Linked DNA regions of Homo sapiens. The protein of the gene in region 1 interacts with the protein of each later gene in a biochemical or structural test. Each region holds a gene or a part of one and is shown in the gene's direction. Other genes may lie near its edges. The genes, in order: CNTNAP2, CASK and EPB41L3.

The links.
Region 2: the proteins of CNTNAP2 (region 1) and CASK form a complex in vitro, tested with the Homo sapiens proteins (2 studies listed by BioGRID and IntAct, with this or other methods).
Region 3: the proteins of CNTNAP2 (region 1) and EPB41L3 form a complex in vitro, tested with the Homo sapiens proteins (one study listed by BioGRID).

Annotation. Positions count from the first base shown.
Region 1 is NC_000007.14:148,408,764-148,415,874, forward strand, and holds part of CNTNAP2 (contactin-associated protein-like 2 precursor), read left to right. Parts: intron 1-627; coding exon 628-708; intron 709-6,653; coding exon 6,654-6,853; 3' UTR 6,854-7,111. UniProt on the Homo sapiens protein: Required for gap junction formation. Required, with CNTNAP1, for radial and longitudinal organization of myelinated axons.
Region 2 is NC_000023.11:41,528,472-41,535,582, reverse strand, and holds part of CASK (peripheral plasma membrane protein CASK), read left to right. Parts: intron 1-609; coding exon 610-690; intron 691-796; coding exon 797-877; intron 878-4,373; coding exon 4,374-4,576; intron 4,577-7,111. UniProt on the Homo sapiens protein: Multidomain scaffolding Mg(2+)-independent protein kinase that catalyzes the phosphotransfer from ATP to proteins such as NRXN1, and plays a role in synaptic transmembrane protein anchoring and ion channel trafficking.
Region 3 is NC_000018.10:5,393,905-5,401,015, reverse strand, and holds part of EPB41L3 (band 4.1-like protein 3), read left to right. Parts: coding exon of another isoform or gene 1-47; intron 48-2,872; coding exon 2,873-2,995; intron 2,996-3,589; coding exon 3,590-3,958; intron 3,959-4,683; coding exon 4,684-4,815; intron 4,816-5,308; coding exon 5,309-5,407; intron 5,408-5,868; coding exon 5,869-5,949; intron 5,950-6,222; coding exon 6,223-6,333; 3' UTR 6,334-6,339; intron 6,340-7,111. UniProt on the Homo sapiens protein: Tumor suppressor that inhibits cell proliferation and promotes apoptosis. Modulates the activity of protein arginine N-methyltransferases, including PRMT3 and PRMT5.

The DNA of each region.
Region 1 (7,111 bases):
AAAATTTGTTTTATCTTAGAGAAATACCTAAATTTAACACAACTGATTCTTACGTTTATAATAGGGAAAGAAATAGAAAATTCACTAGGCAGTTAATATTCTTAACTGTTTTGAATTATTACCCCCTTACAAATTCCTAAAGTGTGCCAGTGTCTTATTACAGCCATGAAAAATACAAGTTTAAAGGAATGATTCCTTTTTAAACTTTTTAATACTGTAGCTGTAAAAAGCTCATCTACAAATACATTGAATGCCACCAGTTGTGCATGGGGTTAAAAGTGGATGGGAAGCAGATTTCAACCAAATGTAAGAAACATATTCAAATGCATAAACTCGTCTGTCTGTGGAACTAGAGCAGGCCAGCTCAGGTAGCTCTAGGATTCTCTAATATTGCTCCAAGTGGGAAGTCGTGTTTACCTAGGCCTTGTGCAAAGAGAAACAGCAGGAACAGGGATGGAGGCTGTTGTGATTCTTGTGGGAGACAATGGCAAGACGGGTCCATCTGAAATGGAGATTTCATTTGGGAAAACAGGAAGTGTTGAAGAGTTGCATGAAGAAATAGGTATCAAATTATTTGGGATCAATAGTATACTTGACTCTGACACTTGACTCTTTCTTTCTCTACAGCCAGTGCGGATTTTCCATATAATCCAGGACAAGGCCAAGCTATAAGAAATGGAGTCAACAGAAACTCGGCTATCATTGGAGGTAGGTGATGTCTAGAGGAGGCTTATATGGGGCTACTCAACTATGGAAAGTAATAGTTGTCAATAACATAGTAGTCTAGGAAAAAAAGTTTTCTAGGTTTTTACATTATTCATTTTGCTGTTTAAAGATTATGACATATGATGTGAAGAAATATAGTAAATATAGCCGGGCACAGTGGCTCACCTCTGTTATCCTAGCACTTTGGGAGGCCGAGGTGGGCAGATCACCTGAGGTCAGGAATTCGAGACCAGCCTAGCCAACATGGCAAAACCCCATATCTACTAAAAATACAAAAATTAGCTGGGCGCGGTGGCTCACGCCTGTAATCCCAGCACTTTGGGAGGCCGAGGCGGGCGGATCACAAGGTCAGGAGATCGAGACCATCTTGGCTAACACGGTGAAACCCCGTCTCTACTAAAAATACAAAAAATTAGCCGGGCGCAGTGGCGGGCGCCTGTAGTCCCAGCTACTCAGGAGGCTGAGGCAGGAGAATGGCGTGAACCTGGGAGGCGGAGCTTGCAGTGAGCCAAGATTGTGCCACTGCAATCCGGCCTGGGCTAAAGAGCGGGACTCCGTCTCAAAAAAAAAAAAAAAAAAGAAAGAAAGAAAGAATATAGTAAATGTAACCTGGCTACTTTTTAATGCTGGCTTGTAAAAAACAAATAGCAGTGGAAAGCTGGACAGACTCAGAATAATTAAGTAGGTAGTAGTGACCATAGCCAGGACATTTCTTTATCCCCCTCGGATATTTTTCAGTCTTATCCTTTCGCATCCAAAATGGTCCAGGATAGCGTACTATAAAAAAATGAAAAGGAATGCTGGGTGCAGTGACTTACGCCTGTAATCCCAGCACTTCGGGAGGCCGAGGCAGGTGGATCATTTGAGGTCAGGAGTTCAAGACCAGCCTGGCCAACATGGTGAAACCCCATCTCTAAAAATACAAAAGTTAGCCAGGCGTGGTGGCGCATTCCTGTAATCCCAGCTACTCGGGAGCCTGAGACAAGAGAATTGCTTGAGCCTGGGAGGTAGAGGTTGCAGTGAGCTGAGATCACACCACTGTACTCCAGTCTAGGTGACAGATTGAGACCTTTCTCAAAAAAAAAAAAAAAAAAAAAATACGAAAAGGGAAATGCCAGTCTGATTTCAGTTATCATAATAAAAATTATCAGAAAATCACTGGAGGTCATTATTTTAAGTGAAATAAGCTAGGCACAAAAAGACAAATATTGCATATTCTCACTGATACACAGGAGCTAAAAGATTTACACACATGGAGGTAGAAAGAAAAACACGTAACAGAGATTGGGAAAGTTGAGCAGGAGGAGGAAGGAGAATGAAGAGAAGTGGGTTACAGGGTGCAAACATACAGTAAGAAAGATAAAAGGAACAAGTTCCGGGTTTGCTAGCAGGGTAGGATGACTATATCTAACAAAAATGTACTGTACTTGGTTGATGAACCCCTAAATACTATGACTTGACCACTATTCCTTATATACGTGTAACAAATTTTCTCATGTACCCCGTAAATTTGCACAATGAAAATAATAAAAACTAAAAATGTATCAGAAGATTTAACAAGCTGTAGCATCTAAAATATTCCAGTGTTTTCTTCTCACCATGGACAGCTACATAATAATTTGACTCTCCTCGGATAGCCACTGAGCCTCATGCGTAGATCGATATTGACATCCCTGTTACCATTAAGATCCCAATCCTCACTGTCTTTTGCTTTTTTAAATGAACTTAATTGAAGTATAATACGCATCTATAAGTGTAACAAGTCCGTAACTTTTATTTATTATTATTTTTTGAGACAGAGTCTCACTTTCTGTTGCCCAGGCTGGAGTGCAGTGGCGTGATCTCAGTTCACTGCAATCTCTGCCTCCCGGGTTCAAGCGATTCTCCTGCTTCAGCCTCCTGAGTAGCTGGAACTACAGGCACGCATCACCATGCCTGGCTAATTTTTGTATTTTTAGTAGAGACAGGATTGTACCATGTTGGCCAGGCTGGTCTCCAACTCCTGACCTCAAGTGATCCACTCGCCTCAGCCTCCCAAAGTGCTGGGATTATAGGTGTGAGCCACCGTGCCCGGCCCCAATCTTTTTTATAGTTTGTGGTTGGTTTGTCCTATCTAAAAAGTCTGCCTACCCAAAGGTTTTGAAGATTTTCAGCTTTCTTCTAGAAGTTGTATCACTTTATCATTTGCCATCAGGTCTTTAATCACTTCGAGTTAATGTTTATAAATGGTGTGAGAGAAGAGTCAACGTCAGTATTTTCCAAATGAATATCTAGTCATTCCAAGACCATTTGTTGAAAAAAAAAAAACTATACTTTTCCTCAATTGAATTTTCTTGGCACTTTTGTTAAAGCAACTGACATATGTGTGTGTGTGTGTGTGTGTCTATTTTCTGGGCTTTTTGTTTTGTTGGTCTATATATATCTTTCCTTAGCCAATATCATGCTTGCTTTATTGTTGTATCTTTTTTTGTTGAGATGGGAGTCTTGCTTTGTTGCCAGGCTGGAGTACAGTGGCGCGATCTCGGCTCATGCAACCTCCGACTCCCTGGCTCAAGCGATTCTCCTGCCTCAACCTCCCGAGTAGCTGGGATTACAGGCACGCACCACCATGTCCAGCTAATTTTTGTATTTTAGTAGAGACAGGGTTTCACCATGTTGGCCAGGATGGTCTCAATCTCCTGACCTTGTGATCCACCCACCTCGGCCTGCAAAACTGGTAGGATTACAGGTGTGAGCCATCGCTCCCGGCCTGTTGTATCTTTATACTAAGTCTTGAAATAAACAATGTAAGTTCTCTAATCCTGGCCAGGCGCGGTGGCGCACGCCTGTAATCCCAGCACTTTGAGAGGCCAAGACAGGTTCATTAGAACATCTTAACGATATTTAGTATTTCTATCTTTACATGGTGTATCTATACGTTTATTTGTCTCATCAGTTTCTCTCAGCAACGTATTGTGGTTTTCAATGCGAAGTCTTGAACAGCTTACTATTTCATTAATTTCATTTTCTAAGTGTCTCTCTCTGGCATATAAAAGTATAATTGATCTTTTATATCAGCCTTGCCTTCTGTGACCTTGCTAAATTTGCTGTTAGTTCTAATAACTTTTTTTGTATATTCCTCAGAATTGTCTACCTAGACAAGCATTTTATCTGAGAATAATGAGATTTTTTTACTTGTTTCTTTCCAGTCTATATCCTTTTGTTGTTTCATTGCACCGGGTAGGATTTTCAGTACAAAAGTGAATAAATATTGAGATTTGACAATTTTGCATTGTTCCCTATGTTAGGGGAATGTGTTTGATCTTTCACTATGAAATAGGATATTGGCCGTAGGTTTCCAACAGATGTCCTTTATCAGATTGAGAAAGTTTCTTCTACTCATAGTTTACTGAAAGCTGTTTGATGAATGGGTATTGGAAGTTTTCCAAATGCTTTTTCCACATCTATTTAGATGATCATATTGTTTTACTCCTTATTTGCTTAATGTGGTAAATCACATTGCTTTATTTTTTAATGTTAAACCAAACTTGCATTCCTAGGATTAACATTATCATAATACATGATCTTTTTTACATATTGCTGGGTTTGATTTGCTAAAATTCTATTTAAAAGAATATTGTGGCCAGGCGTAGCAGCTCACGCCTATAATCCCAGCACTTTGGGAGGCCGAGGCAGGTGGATTACCTGAGGTCAGGAGTTCAGGACCAGCCTAGCCAACACAGTGAAACCCCGTCTCTACTAAAAATATAAAAATCAGCTGGGCGTACTGGTGGGCGCCTGTAAGCCCAGCTACTCGGGAGGCTGAGACAGGAGAATTGCTTGAACCTGGGAGGCTGAGGTTACAGTAAGCCCAGATCGTGCCATTGCACTCCAGCCTGGGCAACAAGAGTGAAACTCCGTCTCAAAAAAAAAATATATATATATATATATATATATATATATATATATATATATATATTGCTCCATAGTTTTCTTGTAACATTTTTCTGGTTTTAGTGTCAGGATAATGCTGGTCTCATAAAATGAATTGAGTAGTGTTTTCTCCTCCTATATTTTAAGAAAGATGTGTAGGATTGGTCTAATATCATTAGGTAATGCTTGTTAGTAGTATTGTTCGAGTCTTTTAAATTTTTGCTGATTTTCTGTTCAATTGTTCTATCAGTTACTGACAGAACAGTGTTAAAAAATCTCCAACTATAATTGCAAATTGGTCTAATTGTCCTACCAGTTCTGCCCGTTTTTGCTTCATTTATTTTGTACTTAGGTTAGATTTATACACATTAGGAACATTATGTCTTCCTGATGAATTCACCCTTTTGTCATTATGAAATGTTCTTCATTTCTACTAACAACCTTGTCCTTTGTCTCATATTAACGTAGCTATTCCAGCTTATGATTATTGTTTGCATATCTTTTCCCACCCTTTTACTGTTGACCTGTATTTAAAGTTCATGTCTTGTAGATATCATATAGTAGGCATCTTTTTTATCCACTGTCTCTACTTTTTAATTGGAGTGTTTAGATCAGTTATATTTACTTCTGTTTTATCTAATCTGTATTATTTCATCCAGTATTTTTTTCTTTTTCCATTTTTTTTTTTTAGACAGAGTCCCCCCCCCCCCCCTCACACAAGCTGGAGTGCAGTGGCACGATCTTGGCTCACTGCAGCCTCCGCCTCCCAGGTTCAAGCGATTCTCACGCCTCAGCATCTTGGCTAGCTGGGATCACAGGAGCGTGCCACCATGCCTGGCTGATTTTTGTACTTTTAGTATAAAAGACCGGGTTTCACCATGTTGCCCAGGCTGGTCTTAAACTCCTGACCTCAAGTAATCCGCCCGCCTCAGCCTCCCAAAGTGCTGGGATTACAGGCGCGAGCCACTGCTCATTTCAGACATTGTGTGTTTCACCTCTACAAGTTCCACGTTGTCTCATTTTTTTTCCCCTCATTTTGATCATGTTTTCCTTTAAACCCCTGTGCAGGTTTCTAATAGCTATTGTACTGTCCTCATCTGCTCATTCCATGCTCTGTCCTTTCTGTTTCTAATAGCTATTGTACTGTCCTCATCTGCTCATTCCATGCTCTGTCCTTTCTGGCTCTCCTTCTAATTGACTGATGTTTCTTCTGGTCAAGTGACATTTTGCTACATTTTTTTTCTCTGAATTATTTTTCTCTGCAGCTTGACGTTATTTAGATGTGTTTTAAAGCTTTTTCAGGACAGAGCTAGAGTAGTCTTTATTCTAGGCCTATTTTAGCAAACACCTTCAGCATGACCATTCTATCAACTGTATTAAATGCTCTGATTGTTCAATGAGGTCTCTTCAGTGTGGTTGTTGGACTATAAACATCTCCCAGCCCTCCGTGAGCTCTGGTTTTTTGCCTGGCCTGTGGACTTTTATTCTGTACATGCACATGTTAGTATTATTCGGCCACAAATTCAGAGAGACTTATGTGCAGATTATTAGGGTTCTTTCTATACATAGCTCTCTCGCGCGCCCACTCTATCTCCCCTCTCCATTCAGGGAAACCACTGTGCTTTCTTGTGCTGCCCCTCCCTACACTGCTGTCCAAAAATCGCTGCCAGCCAGAAAACTAGGAAAAATGTAGGATTCCTCCTTTTTGTTTCTCTGTTCTCAGACATCATGGTTCCTTTCTGCCTGTTTTCTAATGTCTGTAGACTGTCATTTCATAGACTGTGTCCAGTATTTTAGTTACTTTTGGCTGGAAGACAAGTTACTCCTGTTTTTCCTGTTACTCCTTCATGGACAAAAACAGACATCTTACTTCATTTTTGTTATCTTTGTTGTTTTGGAGGTTGTGTTTTATATGGGAGAGGGCTGTGTCTGACGGAGCTGTAGTGAAGTGGGGACAGTGTTGGAGGGACTCCCAAGCCCTGTCTAACCTCTCGTGCTTCTCCTTTCTCCGTCAGGCGTCATTGCTGTGGTGATTTTCACCATCCTGTGCACCCTGGTCTTCCTGATCCGGTACATGTTCCGCCACAAGGGCACCTACCATACCAACGAAGCAAAGGGGGCGGAGTCGGCAGAGAGCGCGGACGCCGCCATCATGAACAACGACCCCAACTTCACAGAGACCATTGATGAAAGCAAAAAGGAATGGCTCATTTGAGGGGTGGCTACTTGGCTATGGGATAGGGAGGAGGGAATTACTAGGGAGGAGAGAAAGGGACAAAAGCACCCTGCTTCATACTCTTGAGCACATCCTTAAAATATCAGCACAAGTTGGGGGAGGCAGGCAATGGAATATAATGGAATATTCTTGAGACTGATCACAAAAAAAAAAACCTTTTTAATATTTCTTTATAGCTGAGTTTTCCCTTCTGTATCAAAACAAAATAATACAAAAAATGCTTTTAGAGTTTAAGCA
Region 2 (7,111 bases), on another chromosome or scaffold:
TTACAGTAAAGCTTGTGAGATGCTCATTGATAAGCTTGTGCAATAGTTACAGAACTTGCCTTAGAATCTAGCATGCCACCTTCATCAACTCTGTTGAAAGAAAGAACCATGAAGTTAAAGACCAGCTGTCCATGCATTTCTCATCCATCTCTAGAAATGATCTAGCTGGCCCCTCTCCTGGTTAACTTTAGTTGCATTCATGCTATATTCATGTTGGTCACTGTCTGTAGACTTTTTCTTTTTAGTATTGCTGACTTCTTAGAATTGGAAAAATATGAACAGCATGTGGTTTCAAATTAATTCATATGATTTGTTGGATACTACATGAAAAGATATGTAGTATCTTTTAGATTTGGACATTTTAATGCATGTGTTCAGCATCTTTGGATGCCCCTGGTTCTAAAGAGCATTTTCATGGGCTTAAAAATGAAAATTTCTCCCTAGATGCTATATGACTTAAATTACATGTAAGCCATATATCATAAGTTGGATTCATATTTTTAAGACATGGTTTTAATATAACTGTAGTTTTGCCAGTAAAATTATAATTTATGTACATGAAATAGTCATTCTACAAATTTACCTTTCTTCTAAATCTTTGCGTTTTAGTGTTTGATCAATTAGATCTTGTCACATATGAAGAAGTAGTAAAACTGCCAGCATTCAAGAGGAAAACACTAGTCTTATTAGGTAAGTTTGATTGTGTAAGTGAGTTGCTTATTCTCACTTTCAAAACATTTTGTGAACATTATTAAGAGTTGTCAGTTTTAACATTCTTTTTTTCTAAATGACATAGGCGCACATGGTGTTGGGAGAAGACACATAAAAAACACTCTCATCACAAAGCACCCAGACCGGTTTGCGTACCCTATTCCACGTAAGCAATGTCTCAATCTCTTTTCATTATATTTTTCCTATCACTTTTTTAACTCTATAATTTATGTATTTTTTTCTGATTACATAAGGTATAACTGTTCATTGTAGGAAATTTGTAAAATCAAAAAAAGAACAAGGAGGAAAATGAGTTAACAGTAATCCCAACCCCTCTTTCCCTATAATAAGTGCTATAAATATTTTGTTGTATACCCTTCTAGGCTTCTCTGTTGTATACCCTTCTAGGCTTGTCTTAGTACAGATATGTGTATAAAGTGTGTGTGTGTGTGTGTGTGTGTGTGTGTGTGTGTGTGTGTTTTAAATAAAATTAGTTTTATCCATTCTGTTTGTAACAATTTTTCTAACAATATGTCATACACATTACCTAGATGAATTATTCTTCAGAAAAATAAGTTTTCATAGTTGTACAGTTTCTGATATGACAATTTTTTTCCCTTAGTTAATATTTAAATTGTTGATTTCTTACCACTTTTTAAACCCAATCAATATGCTAACAGTTGTTTCTGTAAAGATTTTCAAATCTGTAAGATTTTTAATTCTCCTTATTTTCCGTATCTTATTCTTAACCTCTTGCCCTCTTCATTTTCTCAATTGTAAAATGAAGTAATTCAGGATTGCAGAGAGGATTTGAGATCATGTGTATGAAGCACTTAGCAGATGGTGGATAAGTAGAAGCTATCTACCACTATCATTTCATTATTATCATCATTATTCTAAAGTTTAAAATTTTAGGCCAGGCGCGGTGGCTCATGCCTGTAATTCCAGCACTTTGGGAGGCTGAGGTGGGCGAATCACCTGAGGTCGGGAGTTTGAGACCAGCCTGACCAACATGGAGAAACCCCGTCTCTACTAAAAATACAAAATTAGCTAGGCATAGTGGTGCATGCCTGTAATCCCAGCTACTCAGCAGGCTGAAGCAGGAGAATCAGTTGAATCCGGAGGTGGAGGTTGTGGTGAGCCGAGATCGTGCCATTGCACTCCAGCCTGGGCAACAAGAGTGAAACTCCGTCTCAAAAAAAAATAAATAAAATTTTAACCCCAGAAGCTTTCTAGCAGCTCAGGGTTGGAAGAGCTAAAGGAAAATTATTTTTTAAGAGCAACAGGAGAAAATGTGAAGATTGGCTCCATTCTATAGGGCCTTCACATGCCTTCCTGAAGCAATGTCAATACCACTTACAGTTATCTGTACACCTCAGAGAGCCAGGAGGCTTCATGAGAAAACCTTCATCCCAAAACCTTGTCTGATTTACACAAGAAAAGAAATGTATCCAATAGTGTCTCATTTGGCACTACTGGGGTTTTCTAGTAAAACACTTTGAAGTGTTCTTTTAATTCTCCTTATGTCTAGATCATGAGTACAGCAAGCTTAGCTAACATTTAGCTTCTTCTTAACCACGTAACAACTGAACTTCCATGTTATTAAATGGCCAGTTAACTAGTTTGGTTTTAAAACTTACCTTTGATGATGTCAATCATGACTAGTCTTTGAAATATTTGACCCTGTATGTGTATATAACATATATCTAACTACTGAGATGACTGAAGATAGTACAACATCAATATGTTATGTAAGTTCTTGGCTGGGCGCGGTGGCTCACACCTATAATCCCAGCACTTTGGGAGGCCGAGATGGGTGGATCACATGAGACCAGGAGTTTGAGACCAGCCTGGCCAATGTGGTGAAACCCCATCTCTACTAAAAATACAAAAGTTAGCCGGGCATGGTGGCACACACCTGTAGTCCCAGCTATTAGGGTGGCTGAGGCATGAAAATCGCTTGGAACCCGGGAGCTGGAAGTTGCAGTGAGCTGAGATCTTGCTACTGCACTCCAGCCTGGGCAACAGAGTGAGACCCTGTCTCAATAAATAAATAAATAGTAACGCCGGTTCTTCAGCTTTTGATGTGCCTAGAGAAAGGGCTTCTCTTAAAATGTCCACATTTTGATGACCACGAGCACTTTATGTTCTAACAAACAGGCTAGCAGGAAAGGGGGATTCCCCATTAGTTTAGGCTCATGTATACAGAAGAGAGTAGCATAAATTTGTTCTTTCTCAAAGAAAGAAGGAAGCAAAGAAATTGAGAGAGAGAGGGAAAAAAAGGGAAGGAAGGGAGAAAAGAAAGGGGGGTAGGGAGAGAGAATATTAAAACCAGTGTTCCTGGCTCATCTAGAAAAACATTTCCTAAAGTGTGTTTTGCAGGATACTGGTCCTATTAGTATCCACAGAACTAGAGCTTATTGGCATATACTTCAGTTACACTCACTTAGGTGAGGGGTGGGCAAGCCTTTTCTGTAAAGGACCAGATAGTACACATTTGAGGCTTTAAGGCCATACAGTCTATCACAAGCACTTAGCTCTGCTGTTGTCTCATGAAAACAACCATAGGCAATATGTAAACAAAAGCACATGGCTGTGTTCCAGTAAAACTTTGTTTACAAAAACAGACAGTAGGTGGCCAGGTGCAGTGGCTCACACCTGTAATCCCAGCACTTTGGGAGACTGAGGCGGGCAGATCACCTGAGGTCAGGAGTTTGAGACCAGTCTGGCCAACATGGTGAAACCCCGTCTCTGTTGGAAATACAAAAAATAGCTGGGCATGGTGGTACACGCCTATAATCCCAGCTGCTCAGGAGGCTGAGGGCACAAGAATCTCTTGAACCCAGGAGGTGGAAGTTGCAGTGAGCTGAGATCGCACCACTGCACTCCAGCCTGGGCTACAGAGTGGGACTCTGTCTCCAAAATAAAAAAATAAAAATAAAAAAAGACAGTAGACCATGTTTGGCCCATAAGCCAGTTTGTCACCTCCTGATTTAGGTCTTCCATAATAATTATGGGTATGTCTGGCCACAGTCATTGTGTTTTCAGTGTAACGTGTCTTTTGCTGTATCCTAACATTCTCCTTTTGCAAGATGTTATAGAACATCACTTTTCAATAGAACTTTCTGTGACAATGACAGTACTTGATGTCTGTGCAGTCCAGTACAGTGGCCACTAACCATACGTGGTTATTGAATCCTTGAAATGCCACTAGTGAGACTGAGAAACTAAAATTTGAATTTTATTTAATTTTGGCTTATTTAAATTTAACCATATGCAGTTTTCCATTTTTTTATTCTCCTTTTTTCCTTCTACACAAGACCCAACTGCATTAAGGCATACAGTGAGTTATATTAATCTTGGGTCATTTCACGTCTTCCTCCTGTGGTGGTTCATGAAGGGATAAAATACATCTCACCTGAACACTGAAAGTTTCACCAAACCAGACAATTCACTGGCTACTATGGTGTGATGCACACAGATAAATATGGTTTCTAGAATTTAGTTCTGCAAAGCCACTGGGGGTGAGAACAGGGGATATGAGATATACGCTAAAGAATCCACAGCTTTTAGGAAGAGACTGGGTTTGAGTAAATCTGTTGGGAGTGTAGTAAGCTCATCAGCTCAGCCTTTTAAACCTCTTGTGCCATGCGACTTTGCAGATACAACCAGACCTCCAAAGAAAGACGAAGAAAATGGAAAGAATTATTACTTTGTATCTCATGACCAAATGATGCAAGACATCTCTAATAACGAGTACTTGGAGTACGGCAGCCACGAGGATGCGATGTATGGGACAAAACTGGAGACCATCCGGAAGATCCACGAGCAGGGGCTGATTGCAATACTGGACGTGGAGCCTCAGGTAATGCCCAGCCTCCCCGAATGTCTGACATCCTGCCTGCATGCCAATAAGCACAGATTCTGAAATCAAAAATGCCATCAGAAAGTCACAGGTCACATAATAATTTCATAAACCACAGAAAAGTATCAGTAATGGAGGCGTTGGGGGTTCACAGTCTAGAATGCCAGCTGACTAATCGTTGGACTCAGTGCACACACCATGTATTTAAGAAGCAGAGATTATTCTCTTAAGAGGTTTATTATATGCAGAAGCTCAGTAAGGTTCCTGATTGTGTCTACGCCTGCCAGAAATCCTACGATCATCTGACCTCAGGATGAGGCTCTGGCACTTTGTTATCACAACAGCCACCTTCCCTCTCTGGGTACAGCTCACGCTGGACCATCAGAGCCTCTACCAGCACATTATGTTAATCTCCAGTGAGAAACTGATCCTGGGGCCTGGGTCTGAAACACAGCACTAGCTTTATGAAAGCAAGCATGAGTGAGCCCAGATGTCAGAGACAGCAGGGATGGAAACCCATGGTGGCTCTCAGCCTCTGCCATTTCCTTACCTGAGCACAATGCCTGACCCTGAGCAAAAACTAGGAGAGAGATAAAGACTTGGAAGAGGACTCAAAAGAGAGCCAGACACAGAGATGATGAAATGGTTTCTAGATATGTCTTGCAGTAGGAATTATTAAACTTGAAAAAGAGAAAGCTGAAGGCTTTACATCAAAAATGCTGACAAGCTGTTTTTTCATCTCTGAGTACAAACCAAGTAGATATGGGAGGCAAAGTATAGTAGGAAGGATTTGGGAGTTGTAGACATCAAGGTGGGTTATAGGAGAGGCTTGTGGGTGCCATGTGACTCCTGGGTCTGCCATTTCTAGGACTGATCTGTACCAAATCTCCTTTAACCCTTAGAAATAGAACCAGTATGCTACCTGCTGAAATAGTAGACCAGCTTCCCTCAAGCAGGCTGTGTTTCATCAGGAGGCTTACCTGGCTATCTTAGGCAGGGCGAATCCCTGTTCAAGGGCCACTGTATGAGACTTGGTCCCCTAACCATCCCTAAAGCAAGGACAGAACCTATATAGCCAGAGTCTGTGTGACCTGGGACCTGACAGCTCAGTTTCTGGGCTCCAGGATCCTAATTCGTGGCCAGTGGGTTCACCCATTTCCGTTTACAACACCTGATGGGGTTCTTGAACTTGGAACTTTGGAAACCACAAAAGGATCTGTTCAAGGGGCTAGGGAGGAAAGCAGCAGTAGGGTGAACACTGCCGTTTACTTAACAATTAACTTGGACCTATATAGAACTAAATATATGATGTGTACCACAGATTGATTTTTGTTTAACTACTAATCCCTCCTTACTAGGGATTGGAAAAATCTTCTGGCCAGGGGTGGCTAGAGGCAAAGTCTCAATCCTGGTCCTGGTCTTCGACATCCTCTCCTTGGGTTCCACACTGGTCTTCACCTGAACGTCGTTTTCTGCTGGTAGTAATGTCTCTAGCAGTATGCTGGCTGCAGGGCTCCTCAGACTCCCTCTGCATTACCTAAGTCCACTTTCGAGGGCTTTCTGCCTTACCTGCCTCCGCTGCTGCCGCCGCCACCGCCACTGCTGCTGCTGCCGCTGCTGCTGCTGCTCCACCCATAGCGTCCAGCTCTCCCTTTCTCCTTGCCCTTGCACAGCCATGCATTGCTCTGCACTGCTGAGTGGGAGACACTTCTCTCAGCCTCCTCAGGACACCCACAGCAGTTACTTTTACCCATTGCACTTGGCCCCAAAGCACCTCCTCACCCCGGCTGGGCACTCTCCTCTGCTCCCCTGAGTGCTGGATGAGCTCACCTGCACTCTTCTCTCCTGCTTCCTGGGTCCCTGCCTCTCAGAACTGTGATCTCTCAGATCCACCTAGCCCTGAGGGCCGGCCATAGGCATCCTGGCTGCCTGAGTCTCTTTGGGCCAGCGGCCCTGGGGATAGGGATTGCCCAGGTCCTGCTCCTCCTGTTGGTCTGGTTGACTACACTGGTCCCAGGCCCTCCTGCGCAGGCCAGCCTCATGCCAGTCCTGGTCTCACAATGACCATTGCATACCACAGTACAGCTGAGAATGCCCGCAGTCTGCACCGACTGGGCTTCACTCTCGGGCTTCTCTGCCCTCAGCCCAGTCTCTCCTCAGCTGGACAAGGCCTTCATCCTGCCTTCAGGATACCCGTGACCATGAACAACTTGCTTTCAGGCAGAGCCTCACTGCTCCAGGGAGGCTCTCTCCTTAGGACATTTTTCTCCATCCCCCTTTCCCACTCCAGCTTCTTAGATGACCCCTCTACTGTATCTTACAGACAATTTAATCCAACAAACTTGTATTAAGCCCTTATTATATGTCAAGCACAGGGTCAGGAGCTAAGAATACAATTCAGAAGACAAGATGGTGAGGATGAAATTCCTTCCTCATTGTACATCCAAAACTGTCCATAACAGAAGGGCCTTGTGGCATTTTTTAGAATCCTCTCACTTCTGCCAAACTACATGTGGACCATAGGAAAACCACCTA
Region 3 (7,111 bases), on another chromosome or scaffold:
AAGTTATATTTTTGCAGCAAGGAAGCGCTCCATTCCTTGAGTCTCAGGTAAAAACCAAACATAAAGGATTTTCCAGAAGAAATTGGTCTTCAGACTTCAGTGTCATTAAAATGCTCTTAGTTTTTATTTTCCCTTTAACATTTATCTTGTTTAAAACCAAGGTAGGTACATAATTTTGATTTAGATTCTGGGGAAGGGAAAATTGAATTTTCTTAATATTTTAGTTATCAGTTATGCATCATTTCTTCATGGCTTCTAATCCAAGCTGATTTTTCTCTGTATGTTGTCATTGACTTACTTTCTGATAATAATCTTGCTGAAATGTTGTTTTACTGCCTGTTTTTACCTGTAGAGTCGTGCTAATTTAGATGAAGTTGACTGATTTTGAAAGTTCTGAATTCTTATTGGTTTCCCCACTAGCCAAGTGTGATAAAGAAAATGCAGGAAGGAGACTCTGCTGACTCTGTGGTTACTTCTCGTCAAATAATTTTCCAGAAAACTGTCCCATCAACCCTAGAGGTTATTCTTTCAATTCATTTCATTTAATCTAGCAACAACATGTAGATCAATCTGTAGTGGTATTTTTAAAGGCACACGTATTTCTAGATTTAAGTTTTCAGGCTGTAAAAAACAGAAAAGTTTCTAGAAAACATTCTAGTTTAAAATGTAAACCAGGGCACTCACCTGCTCCTGGTTTGATATCTCTTCCCTCTGTAATCTGTGAAGCTATTAACCTACCTGGTCATATTGTATTATGCCTCCCTGAATACAAAAGTTTCTTAGCTTTCCTTTCTTTTGCCTTATTGGAACTAACACTAAAGAAAGTGAGAGAGAAACTCCTGAGACAGTGAACTTCAGTTGTAAATAAGATTGGAGCGGGCACAATGGCATGTGCCTGTAGTCCCAGCTCCTGGGGAGGCTGAGATGGGAGGATCACTTGAGCCCAGGGGTTCGAGGCCGACCTGGGCAACATAGGGAGACCCCATCTTTTAAAAAAAAAATGTAAGACTCGAACACTGTACAGATCACTGTAAGAGGCTCTAATAGTGTCCTATTTGTGGGAAATATTTCATTACAATGCCTTGAACACAGTCACACTCAATATTTATTGAATAATAAGTGCTATTATGGATTCATTTCCCTGTATAAAGAAATACAATTTACAAATATGGAAAATATTTACATAAATTTGTAGAATGTTGGGAAGCTCTCTGTGATAACAGTATATGAAGTATAGATTATATTTAACGAGGAAAACTTTTATCCCCACACATGTAAAGCTAAGTAACTTATAGAGCAACATCAATAATGTTATTTAATCTTGAAATATAAAATGATCCAAAATTTATCATAAGAGCAAATCTGTTCTTCAAAAAATTTACTGCAAAGTATGTTCCAGTTTAAAGAAGTTGCAACTCTACCTACCGAATGTATTCTGAGCTGAAGTTTATAGTTTATCATTTCAGAGGAGAAGAGATTGCAGCCATAATTATTAGATAATAACATGAGCACTGTATGGTCCCATCACAGACCTGCATGTAGCAGTTGCCCTGATTTTCTTAAAGGATTCTTATTTTAGAAATGAGATACCATCAGAATTTCTAATTTAGCTTTTATATTTCAAATATAGGGCACAGAGGATTGGGTTATTGTAGACAGAATACCAACTGAGGTAGTTGATGGTGATTTGAAAAAGATTGTGACTTACAAGGTGGTGACCGTGAGCAGTAAAACTGGTGATCTCCCAGCTGACATGTTAAAATCTGGCACTATTAAAATGCAAAGCTTCGAAGAATTGGCTCGAGAAATGCAACTGAAAGAAGACAGCAAACAGAAAATATACACTCTAGGAAAATCCTATGACACTGTCTCCGGGAGAATTGTTACTATGACTGGGAAAGCTAAAGAGGGTGAGAAAGTGGAGCAGCCCTCCACTACAGAAGCACTTCAGAAAATGGAGAAAGAAATACCAGAGTCCATGAAGATCATTCCCGGCCTGGCAGAATATGAGGTCCTGGAAACCCTCGCTGATGAGAAATCCAAGAGAGGACCAGAGGTCCAGACGACACAGCGGAAATTGTCCGAATCCCTGGCCCCCATCAAGGAGGCCGAGTCTCGCCGGCAGAGTCCTGAAGAAGATGACCTCAAGAAGGCTCCACAGCTGGAGAAGGATGTGGCCGTCCTCCCTGGCCTGGAAGGCAGACGCTTCAGCAAAACAGAGCAAGTGCCCGAGAGTGAGGTCTTAAAAGTGGGCCTCTTTGGTCCCCGAAGGAAGAGCCTGTCCGAATGGAGATATTCCCAGGAACCAGCCTTTACCGTTGCTACTGCCCATTACGTTACTGAGTCATCCGCCTCCCGAGTAGTGGTAACCAGTGTCACTCATTGGGGCCACAGTTTGCAATTCCAGCATGACAGTTTTTGAGGCAGTCCCCTTCCACCCCAAACCTTTCCGTTTCTCTTGCTGCTTGGCTTTATGTTGAGAGCAGCCAACCCAGCTTCTTAATTTTTTTTCATGGTTAAATCAATACCGCAGTGCAAAGTCAGCATTAAAACACTTTCCATTTTATTTCCAGCTCCCTGTTCCCAAGATGTGATAGTGCTGCTGTGGCTTGCAATGAAGGGGAAAAAATATATATATCTGCTTAAATCGGCGCCACCCTGATCCTAATAACCGTCTCTGCTTTACCAAACAAGAGCACCTGGTTTTCTATTTTATTTCCCATTCTTTTCGTTTCCAAACTCTGAGATTCCTTCGTTCTTCCTCCTCCCTGTCTCCTCTGCCTACGATTTTGTCTAACAAGCTGTGAATGTTTATGTGCCTGAGTTTGTGTCTCTCTTTTGTGCTTGACTCTGCCTCTCTTTGTTCACTCAGACTAAGCAGTCTTCTGGGGAAAAGCTCATGGATGGCTCTGAAATCTTCAGTTTATTAGAGTCTGCGCGAAAACCAACAGAATTCATAGGAGGGGTTACTTCTACTTCTCAAAGCTGGGTTCAGGTGGCCATTTGTTTTCGTCCTTGGTGTTTCTGAATGTGCCCATGTGCCTTTCCTTACCCTTTTTTTGGGCGTGAGTGTGTGGTTGCATCCAGCTGGCTTTGCCTTCAACATCTCAAAGGTGTCTTCACTTATTGTCCTTTGTGTCTGCTTGGCATATCTGTCACATGCCTTTAGTTGCATCTCAAGAATGTACTTCACTATTCGAAAGGCGATCATATTGAGAAATTTTAATAGAATTAAATATCTAAAAGCATTATGTCTCACCAGTTGAGTCTAAGAAAGCAGCCAAAACCAACGTGAATGCGCTGCAATGCTTTGGTTTTTGTTTTGTTAATTGCACTTTATCCTGCCTTCCGTTTGTTTTGCGGATGTCCTGAAGCAGCAGCGCAGGTTCAAGTGCATGCACCAGGGGCAGGGGCAGGCATCAGAGATTTCAGTGGGAGAAATGAAAGCTAATTTATATTTTTCGTCAGTGTTTCTGGTTATAAGCACTTGCTGCTGGCTTTAGACATCCTGGCGAGTGGCAGCTTTAGTTATTTTCTGACCTTTGGTTTATGGATGGTCACACTGATGCCACAATCTCTTCCCATGCAGAAAATGGAAACCAAGACGGAGTCCAGTGGAATAGAGACGGAACCCACCGTGCACCACCTGCCGCTTAGCACTGAGAAGGTGGTGCAGGAGACCGTGTTGGTGGAGGAGCGGCGTGTGGTGCACGCGAGTGGGGATGCTTCTTACTCGGCGGGAGACAGCGGGGATGCTGCAGCACAGCCCGCATTCACAGGCATTAAAGGGAAAGAGGGCTCTGCCTTGACGGAGGGGGCTAAAGAGGAAGGAGGGGAGGAGGTCGCTAAAGCTGTCCTGGAACAGGAAGAGACAGCCGCTGCTTCCCGTGAGCGACAAGAGGAGCAGAGTGCAGCCATCCACATTTCAGAAACTTTGGAACAAAAACCTCATTTTGAGGTAACTAGTAGTAAATGTTACTTTTATCACTAAAATAAAACTGATATAGGATGCCTGGAAATTTAGATCAGCATAAAGGTGGAGCTAAGTTTAATTTTCTGCCTCTCCCATGTATAGTGTATTTCTCCTCTCATTTCCTTCTTTCATACCTAGTAGGAGTCTCCACACTGATTTCCAGCTTTGGTGTCACATGCAAACATATCTCTTAATTATTAATAATATGGCACCAGGAAATGGTTTCTACTCTCACTGAAATTATTATAATTGGCAGTAAAATTGGGAAATGCAAAGTTGGCCAAGATATTAGAAAATGTGATACATTTATTTCTTATCAGTGCACTTTTCCAGAAGCACCAAAACCATGTTTACCCGGGTCCTAAATGCCAGAACTTTATTCTTTATCCTCTTTTATTGAGATTCCTGAAGTATTTGGGGAGTTAATGTCTCATTATTAGTTTCTTCTTTCTAAGAAGTTATTAAATAGAAAACTTTTTTTTATTGCCTTCAAAATGTTTTGCTTTACTTGGAGCATTTCATATAAAAGTGCTATGAGAGTCCAGGAGACTGACATGTGCATGTTGTATGCCTCATTCCCCAGCTTACTCTCTACATAAACATTTATAGCATACTAACCTGTGCTTATAACCACCAAGAGAGGAAAAGGAAGAAAACAATGTGTTCATGCAAACTATAACAGCCACTCTGCTTACTCCCCTTTGGCACAGTCCTCAACGGTGAAGACGGAAACCATCAGTTTTGGCAGTGTTTCACCGGGAGGAGTAAAGCTAGAAATTTCCACGAAGGAAGTGCCAGTAGTTCACACCGAAACCAAAACCATCACATATGAATCATCACAGGTGAGATATTCTGTGAAGACCAGAGCCCTGGCTGCTTATTTCACCCCTCTATGGCCTAGTGTGTTTACATAGAACTGCACGATATTTAATTCATGAGACTTAGAGGATCCAGCAGCCAGACCATTTCTATTAAAAGTGATGCAATAATGGTCATTTTATTAGTGATCAGGGAGCAGCAGATGACTTAACCAAGTCTTTATGTGTCTTGAAGTGTAGAAAAAGGCTCAGAAACCTGTTTCCCTAGCCACAGAGAAAGAAAAATATTCACTCACCCATCCACCACTCACATTTCTGAAACCTTAGTTTTTTTAATGACAGTTACCTGTGGTTGCACTTAGTACTTATTCTTGGGAGCAGCGCTCAGACTCTGAAGAGCATAATGATTGCATAATAGGAGATAGTGAAATTGTCGTAATGCCTTAAATAACGTAGCCAACTTCTGAAGAGCAGATGTGAGCACCTGGATGAGGGGTCTATGCCTCTGCTGCTTTAGGTCGATCCAGGCACAGATCTGGAGCCAGGCGTGCTGATGAGTGCACAGACGATCACATCTGAAACCACCAGTACCACCACCACTACGCACATCACCAAAGTAAGTGGAGTGAGAACCGAGAAGAGGATTCCTTGAGAGCGAGCTGGAGGAAGGTGCTTGTTCAGAACTCCTCACAGGTTGGGCTGCACAAGCACAAGGTGGCTTGAAGCTCAGGACGCCGGGATAGCTGCAAGGGGAGCTTTTACAGCCCCTAGATTTACGATGCACTTGTCCTCACGTGCGAGTTCCCCTTTAGGAATATACATTCTGATATCCTAAGCTTAATGCTTACTCCAGTGCTTGGCATGTGGTAGTGTTCCAGAAACATGGGCCATCCAGACCCAAGGGCCTCCATTCCGTCCTCACCTCTGGAATTAAAAATGTGAAATAAGTGCCATAGAACTCTAATTTCAATTCTCGAAGAGTGAATGATGTCAGCATCTTCGGCCATTTCCCCCTACTGAACCATGATGGTTTCTCCCAGTGAGTAAATTCATAAAGCTTCTCTACGTGTCTTGCAGACTGTGAAAGGGGGCATTTCAGAGACAAGAATTGAGAAGCGAATAGTCATCACGGGGGATGCAGACATTGACCATGACCAGGTAGTGTGTGTGAGACGGTAAATACCCTGGCAGAGAAACAAAGAAAAACCTGTTGGTCCTACAGTTTCAATGCTATTCCTCTAGTCCAGCATGTATTCCGAAGAAAATTCCGAATTAACTTTCCAATATATGATTTATGATTCCTTTTGTAATCATTGTACCTCATTTGTAAATTGTGGATATAGATCTAGCTCATAAGTCTCCACCTCACCACTGATCATGCATGTTCCACCTCCTTTTTGTTTCTGCCCTTCTGTGATTTCCCGGGGATAGGCGCTGGCTCAGGCAATTAAAGAGGCCAAAGAGCAGCACCCTGACATGTCAGTGACCAAAGTAGTGGTCCATAAAGAGACAGAGATCACACCAGAAGATGGAGAGGATTGACCAGAGGTAAGAGGTGATGCCGATTCTCTAGGCTTGCCTAGGCTGGCATGAGGCATGGGGCACTTCCCTCTCATCCTTCACCTGATCCCTCCTTTCCTCTGTTCTCTCACTGGCATTTGTTGGGCTGGTTACCAAGAGGATGGAGAATTGGTTTATGGGTTTGTCTCACATTTGGAGCTTCCATTCTTGTGGAGTTTTTGCATGCACTGCCAGTTAGAGGATAAAGGAAGAGCAGAGTCTATGCTTCTATGCTTGTGTGGTCTTCCTGGTGTTCCCTTTTATTCCATGGCCTGCACTCTTTGATTATCCAAATTTGTAATGGCAAATTTGATTTTACTTGCCATGTGGCCTAATTGGAACAAAGGCAGTTTTGCTCTGAGAGGCTCAATTTGTGTGTTCCAAATACTAGGGAAATAATATATACCCCTTTCTCCTTCTGATGGCAACATTATCCCGTCGTAAGCTTTCTCTTCAACTGTGTTTGATTGTAACCTGTTTATGCTTTTGTCTTTAGTTTTGTTTTTTTAATTTGAAAGCTGAGCACTCACTTTCTTTTTGGATGTCTTATATTTCCTGTATTCTTTGGGATGATTTTTCTCCCTAGCGTAGCACTGTCTCAGAAGGAGGCAAAAAAAATGCAGTCTTGTGGTCCTGTAGAAAGCACATACCTTTCCAGTGACTGTTTGGCCAGCATCATGAGCAGACTATATCATCTATGTGAGCACAGACTTGTCATGCATAGTCACCTGCCATGCAAGATCTCATGGGGCCATGAGCG